Linked DNA regions of Homo sapiens. The protein of the gene in region 2 interacts with the protein of the main gene of each other region in a pairwise test. Each region holds a gene or a part of one and is shown on either strand. Other genes may lie near its edges.

Evidence for each region.
Region 1: the proteins of BPNT1 (region 2) and CCP110 interact in a two-hybrid assay, tested with the Homo sapiens proteins (one study listed by IntAct).

Annotation. Positions count from the first base shown.
Region 1 is NC_000016.10:19,547,686-19,551,611, reverse strand, and holds part of CCP110 (centriolar coiled-coil protein of 110 kDa), read right to left. Parts: intron 3,658-3,926; coding exon 3,598-3,657; intron 3,098-3,597; coding exon of another isoform or gene 3,012-3,097; intron 417-3,011; coding exon 341-416; 3' UTR 1-340.
Region 2 is NC_000001.11:220,082,961-220,086,886, forward strand, and holds part of BPNT1 (3'(2'),5'-bisphosphate nucleotidase 1), read right to left. Parts: intron 1-3,926. UniProt on the Homo sapiens protein: Phosphatase that converts 3'(2')-phosphoadenosine 5'-phosphate (PAP) to AMP and inositol 1,4-bisphosphate (Ins(1,4)P2) to inositol 4-phosphate. Is also able to hydrolyze adenosine 3'-phosphate 5'-phosphosulfate (PAPS) to adenosine 5'-phosphosulfate (APS).

The DNA.
Region 1 (3,926 bases), on a different chromosome or scaffold from region 2:
ATTTATAATTTGTCTTATCTTTTCAATATTCTGTAAAAGTAAATCCAAATGTCCTTGACATTTACAAAAAGGGTCTCTGTAGACATCTGGGCATATAAAATAAACTTATGTTTGTATAGGTAAGCACAGAGATGATGCAATTACTAAACACTAATTTGTCTTCACCCAAACGTATTATTAAGAGGAAAATAGGGGTGTGGAGCAGGAATTACCAAACTGACCAAATGATCCAGATAAGTGCTCAGCCTTCTGATGTCACTTTGTCTGTGTAAACGGAGTCCAGGGTTAAATAAAGTCTTGGGCAGGGAAAATAACATGAATAATAATCCTTCCCCCCATTTTATCCTAATGAATGTTGTCTTCTTAAATTGTCGCAACATTTGGCCGCTTTCTTTGGATTTTTCCTGCATATACTCCTAAAAATAGAGCAAAACCAGTATTACTTCTCAATGGGAGGTTTTCTATAATGATACCATTTAATGAGTTTTTACTCTGGAACAAACACTGAGCTAGGCAATATACATTATCATATTTAATCCTTATATGAATCATCCTGAGGTAGAAATTGTTATGACCATTTTAAGGATAATAAAACTGAGGCATAGGAGAGCAGTTGCCTAAGGAACAGAGCTAGAAGGAAGAACTCTGATAACCCAAGTCCACCTGATGTGTTATTTTACTTAACCATTTTGCATGACCACCTCCTACTCTGCTTTGATTAGTGGTTTCTGAATTTCACTATATAAACTCTAGTCAAGCACAAAACATCAAATGAAGAAATGTGTTTTAAAACCGTAAGTCAAAGATCACTTACGATAACATCAGAGATTGCAATTTAGGTTTGTAAAACTATAAATAACTAAATGCTTTGCAGCATACTTTAACATTTTAGAATTCTACTTCAGTCTAAGAGTATGATATTCTATCATAAGAAAAGTTAGTTTTCTATAAATTGCTTAACAAAGGATTTGCCTCCATTTAGAGCAAATCAGAACATAATTTCAAATTTGTTTAAAACATAATTCAGACCATTAAAACTCTAAGCAGGAAAGAGTAATCTTTTCAAGAGCGACAGTGAGTTCCTGTGTTCAGATTCATAGTTAGCATTTTAACCAGCCAATATCCCAAACTCTCAGTTTATATAAAAGAATACAATTCTGGCTGGACGCGGTGGCTTACACCTGTAATCCCAGAGCTCTGGGAAGCCGAGGTGGGCGGATCACCTGAGGTCAGGCGTTCGAGACTAGCCTGGCCAATATGGTAAAACCCCATCTCTACTAAAAATACAATAAATTAGCTGGGCATGGTGGCACGCGCCTGTAATTCCAGCTACTTGGGAGGCTCAGGCAGAAGAATGGCTTGAACCCAGGAGGTGGAGATTGCAGTGAGCCAAGATCACACCAATGCACTCCAGCCTGGGCAACAGAACAAGACTCTGTCTCAAAAAAAAAAAAAGAACACAATTATTTAGTTTCTTTCAATTGTCTAAATATGCACTCATGTATAAGTAAATCTTTAGAAAACAACAGCAACAGACTTTTGTACTTGTTTAGATACATATTAATTCAAGGGTTAAGTTCATTTGTATTAATAAGTATGTTGCAATGCAATTTAACCTCAATAGTTCAAAATAATGAACTTCATTGTATGTTACTAACTTCAGTGACTGACTATACATCCTTTATACTGTTGAGTATTGCTGAATAAAAACAGTACTTGCTATTTTGCTTATAAGTTCACAAGTGACAAATAGTGGAGATGAAATGCATGAGAAAAGAACATGGAGAGTAGTCACTGTGGCAAATTGGTATCAGGCAAAACAATACTAATTCCTCAATGATTTTCCAACTTGCTAAGTTTCAGTGCAATATAGAATACTAACATGAGAAAAACAGAAAATGTCTTAAAATTCCACAGGTTTGGTGTTTGGTCTGAGTCCTTTCAAATGGTTATCTTTCAAACTAGCTTATTCTGACTGCCTCTGGAGTAAACAGTATCTTCAGCTATGTAATCCTTTAAGACAATTCCATTAACTGTCACTCACAATGATTTCCAAAGATGATCTTTTAAATTATCCTATATATGTGTGACACTATGAATTACCTTCACTACATACATACAAAAGGTCAGCCATCATTTCAAAGTTACGACCAATAGCTTGTTCCCTCCTAATTTGAAGGAAATCACTTAGTAATAAAGCTCTAAAATTTGCCTAATTGTATATTAATGGAAAGATTAAAATTGATTAAAGGTTTAATCTTCAATGCCTGGTGATTAATTTAGGTTTGTTGTAAATGTCTAGAAAGCAGTATAGTTAAAGCACAACATTTGGAAAGTATTTTTAAATGGATCACATAATTTTTAAGTGAGCTTAATCAAAGTGTCTTAACAAAGATACCTAAAAAATATTAAAGCATTTGGTTAAGAGCTTTGAATTTGCTCAAGAATGAGTTTGTCTTCTTGCCACCATAAACAGAATTTTAAAATACAGTTTTTAGTTTAGCTCTTAATCCTCAAATAATGAACATAAGGAGAGATTTAGCTCAAGCTTTGGACTGAGCAAAATATGAAGCCCTCCTCCCACTGGCATATTCACATGTGATCTTATAGTCTGAGGGAGAAAGTTTATCCCCTTATGTGCAGATACACTTCCCCAAGCTGAACAGACAATGCACAGACTTAGCACCAGAGATGATCGTTATCTTTTATTCATTAAATAAAAAGGTTTTCTGAATTAAGCATGGCAAATTCTACAATTTTTTCAGAATGAAAAATACAAGGTGCTTTCCACAGAAATATTATAGAAATGAAGACTGGAATCACACTTTTACTAAGACTTCCTGACTGCCATACAATGCTAAGACCAAAGAACACTAATAAGATGACTGTGAATATGCCAAAATTATGGTGGCAAGGAAAGACAATCTATTCCACTTCTATGGCCTGAGTTATGGGGCAGCTTGTGCACTTCCTTCTATTGAATGGGCTTCAGGAATTTATTTTCTACAAACCTGAAACAGGCACTCTGTTAGGCACTCTGCTCTGTGAAGGCTTCTGTCTATTTTGCACAACCCCCTTCACTGATGTCTTAGGGGTTCTAATTGAATATAAAAAAATTAATAAGTCACTGGCATTAAGGTCTAAATGTTCAAAATTCAAAGAAAGCAATCACATTGCATCAACTGTCCAAAGCACAAATAAGCTTGAAAAGAACTGAAGTCTCATGCATGCGCACAGTAAGGAAAGCTAAACTCTGGCTTCAGCAGGAGACTATAAGCACGAGTCATACTCTGTTGGAGAATCACTTCGGTGATGCTGAATTTACTATATGGATATTTAAAATACTTTATGAGTAAAATGGTATGAAATGAAAAGTAAAAACATCCCAACTTAAGACAGTAATTAGAATACACAACAGTACACCAAGAGGGTTACATTTGAAGACAAAACTTTAAAATATCTTTCCCAATGCTATAAAGAAAAAAAATCCCATTGAAAAACCATTATCCTTTACATAAAGAACACTAGATTTATTTTTCCCTCTCAAATCTAATCTTGGTTTCCGTAGTTTTCAATACCCGTGTGTGGCATTCTTACCCTTGTCTACTAAGTAGCCTATGAACAGGTGCATTCTGTCCTTGGTTTGGCTGAAGGACTCTGTTGACAAATTAAATGAAAAATTAATTTAATAGGTTAAATTCCATTTTTTCCCATTTTCTTTCAACGGATGAAAGATGATGACTGTAAGGTAAAGGTCAACTATGCAATAATATGGCCTATATATTACCACAAATCAGAGCAAATCGACTAAAGCATATTAATATGATACTTGTATTTTGCTCACTAAGAGTCCAAACCTTAGGTTTTTATCAGCAAAGAAATGTCCAACATATAGACTAACCCTTGTGCTTTTAGATAATTTTCTT
Region 2 (3,926 bases):
GGGCACAGTGGCTCACGCCTGTAATCCCAGCACTTTGGGAGGCCGAGGTGGGCAGATCACTAGGTCAGGAGTTCGAGACCAGCCAGACTAACATGGTGAAACCCCGTGTCTACTAAAAATACAAAAATTAGCCGGGCGTGGTGGCATGCACCTGTAATCCCAGCTACTCAGGAGGCTGAGGCAGGAGAATCACATGAACCCAGGAGGTGTAGATTGCAGTGGGCCGAGATCGTGCCAGTGCACTCCAGCCTGGGCGACAGAGCAAGACTCCATCTCAAAAAAAAAAAAAAGAAATTTATGTAAGGTAATGAATACCGTACTGTGACCAATAGCTGTCTGGAAATTAAGATGAAAATTAAACGGGTTTCTCTTTTTTTTTTTTGAGATGGAGTCTCGCTCTATCGCCCAGGCTGGCGCGATCTCGGCTCACTACAAACTCCGTCTCCCGGGTTCACACCATTATCCTGCTTCAGCCTCCCGAGTAGCTGGGACTACAGGCACCCGCCACTGCGCCCGGCTAATTTTTTGTAGTTTTAGTACAGATGGGGTTTCACCATGTTAGCCAGGATGGTCTCGATCTAACCTCATGATCCACTCGCCTCGGCCTCGCAAAGTGCTGGGATTACAGGTGTGAGCCACCGCGCCCGGCCAATAAAACGGGTTTCTAAGTGCAGCTGACACTTGAACAACACGGCCTCGAACTGCACCGGTCCACTTTGTGGATTTTTTCCAACCAAATGCGGATAGAAAAGGTATGTAAAATCTGTAGACAGGAAAGCCTGACTTTTTAAAATATATTTTTATTTTAGTTTCAAGAGAGTTTGTGATCTGTTAAAACTGAGTTTTCATCTATGAGTGTTTTGCAGGGCCAACTGTGGGACTTGAGTATGTGCAGATTTAAGTATTCTCAGGGGTTCCTGGAATCAACCTCCCTCATATACGGAGGGATAACTATATATAATGTGTTTGTTTTATGATATCATAATCAAGCTAGATTAATTTTCTTGGCATACTAGGAGTTACATGTGGAATAAACCAGTTACAATTACTACTAATTCAGGAGCACTTCAGATAGAAAACAGAGAAATAGGGCGGGGCGCAGTGGCTCACGCATGTAATCCCAGCACTATGGGAGGCCGAGGTGGGTGGATCACGAGGTCAGGAGATCGAGACCATCCTGGCTAACACAGTGAAACCCAGTCTCTACTAAAAATACAAAAAATTAGTCGGGCGTGGTGGTGGGCACCTGTAGTCCCAGCTACTCGGGAGGCTGAGGCAGGAGAATGGCATGAACCCGGGAGGTGGAGGTTGCAGTGAGCTGAGATTGCGGCCACTACACTCCACCCTGGGCAACATAGCGAGGCTCTGTCTCAAAAAAAAAAAGAAAAAGAAAAAGAAAAGGAAACAGAAATAATTTAGTAAACACTTTGTTGGTCTTATTTCTATTCCTTTATATCCATATCCAGACATATATCTGATTTATTATGCACTGGAAATGTGGTCTTTGGGCAACTGATTTGTTCTACCCAGCTGTCTTGACCATATTTTAATTATGTGTTCGTATGCTCCTTCAATTCCCATGTTATATAAGAATTCTTTTGTAATAGGAAGATCACCTTCCCTCACTGTATGGTGTTGTTATAACTTTTCATAGATATCATTTACCTTTGAACCAGTTAAGCAACCATTTGACCCTTGTCAGGCTTCATAAATGACTCAACTACTTCCCCTTGTATTTGCCAAGTCCATGGTGTTTTCTTCCATGGAAAAACTTTCAGGCATTGTCTGTCTACTAATTTCCTCACAAAATGATATTATATTTATTAACCACCAGTTAAAGCTAACATCAGCTTATAAAACATAAGAATGGGAAAAATAAGAAATAGAAGACAATAAAAATGGGAAAAATAGTGTTGATGTAAAGCACACAATGATTTATAAAGAGATTCCACAAATCACTTTTAATTGGCAGATAGGGAAATATTTTTACCATTCTTCTTTGAAGTACTTCTCTGGTCCAAACTGAATTAGTAATGAAATAGTACTATGCCCTAGCCTTAATCGTTTTCTTAACTATTTTTTAAACAGATGAATACAATGTTGGTTCTTGGTTAAAAAAAAAAAAAGAAAAAATACATAGTCATATTATCAAAACAAAAAATCTATACAAGAGGTCCCTTTTAGCCTTTTTCATTATGCTCCCTCCTATACTACAGTGAGATTTACCTTTTGATGATACAGGTAGATTAAGAGCAAGGCCCAAACTAGCTACAGGCAAGTTAACTTTCTTAAAGCAGTTCAAATAACACCATTGTACTTCTTTCTCTACCAGTTTTACATCTTCTGGGCCTTAAAACACTCTTGTGAAGGTGTCTTTCTGAAAGCCTAATCTAAAACAGCACAGTGCTTAAGGGCACAGGCTCTGCAGCCCACTACCTGTGTTCAAATCCTGGCTCAGCTGTGGACCTTGAGAAAACCACTTAAATTCTCTGTGCCCCAATCTGTAAAATGGAGACAATAGTACTCATAGTATAGGGCTGCTGTAATTATTAAATGAGTAACACGTGTAAAGAAAGCGCTTTACCTGGCACAAGGTAAACACCAAATAATACTGGCTAACCATTATTATGATTGTCCTTATTTCGGTTATTTTGCAGGGACATTAGGGCAGTGTTAAGGGCAAAAAGTTCCTGTAGTTTCTCCAACAGTATTCTGACCTTGAGAATACAAAATGATAATCAACATGACCCTCAATCAGAGTATAGTTCAGGCTTTTCTTCATAACATTCTGAGCTTTAGGCTTGGAGAGTAGACAAGAAAAAAAGCTGTATAACACTTAAGGCCATCAACCTAATACCTATCCTTGAGAAGTCTTTACAACTGCCAAAGGGCTAGTTCAGAAGGATGGAAAAAAACAACAGGAATCAAACATTAGTTTCTTCTCATATAACGATTGTGACCATATGAGGATTAGGATCTAAAAATGATGAGTTCCAAGTCAAAATACTAAAATTATTTATATTTTGGAACTTGGCCTGATGATAATGTTCAAGGTCATCTGAAAAAATTAAAATGTAAGCATAATGGAGCAAATTCTGGAAAAAGAACTATGAACAGAGGTACTCCCCTTATCAATTATCAAAATATGATAAAATATGATTTAATCAACATATGATATAAAAGTTTGGCTAGTGAGACAAACTAAGGAAATAAATTGCAGAAATAGAACCGAACACACTAAAGGTAGTGTTTCAAATCATGGGGGAAATTCAATTTTGCATAAATGGCAGGGCAGTCGCTAAACTTTTAAATACTTTTTCTTTTTTTTGATATGTAGTCTCGCTCTGTCGCCCAGGCTAAAGTGCGGTGGCCTGATATCGGCTCACTGCAACTTCCGCCCCCTAGAGTTCAAGCGATTCTCCTGCCTCATATGGCTGAGTAGCTGGAACTACAGGCACGCATCACCACGCCTGGCTAATTTTTTTATATTTTTAGTAGAGATGGGGTTTCACCACATTGGCCAGGCTGGTCTCGAACACCTGACCTCAAGTGATCCACCCTCCTCGGCCTCCCAAGGTGCTGGGATTACAGGCATGAGCCACCATGCCTGGTCTGAGTTGCTAAAGTTTTTCTGAGACAGAGTCTCACTCTGTTGTCCAGGCTGGAGTGCAGTGGCGAGATCACGGCTCACTGCAACCTCCGCCTCCCGGGTTCAGCCGATTCTCCTGCCTCAGCCTCTTGAGTAGCTGGGACTACAGGCACAAGCCACCATGCCAGGCTAATTTTTGTACTGTTAATAGAGATGGGGTTTCACCATGTTGGCCAGGCTAGTCTTGAACTCCTGACCTTGTGATCCGCCTGCCTCCCAAAGTGCTGAGATTACAGGTGTGAGCCACTCCGCCCGGCCTGAGTTGCTAAACTTAAAA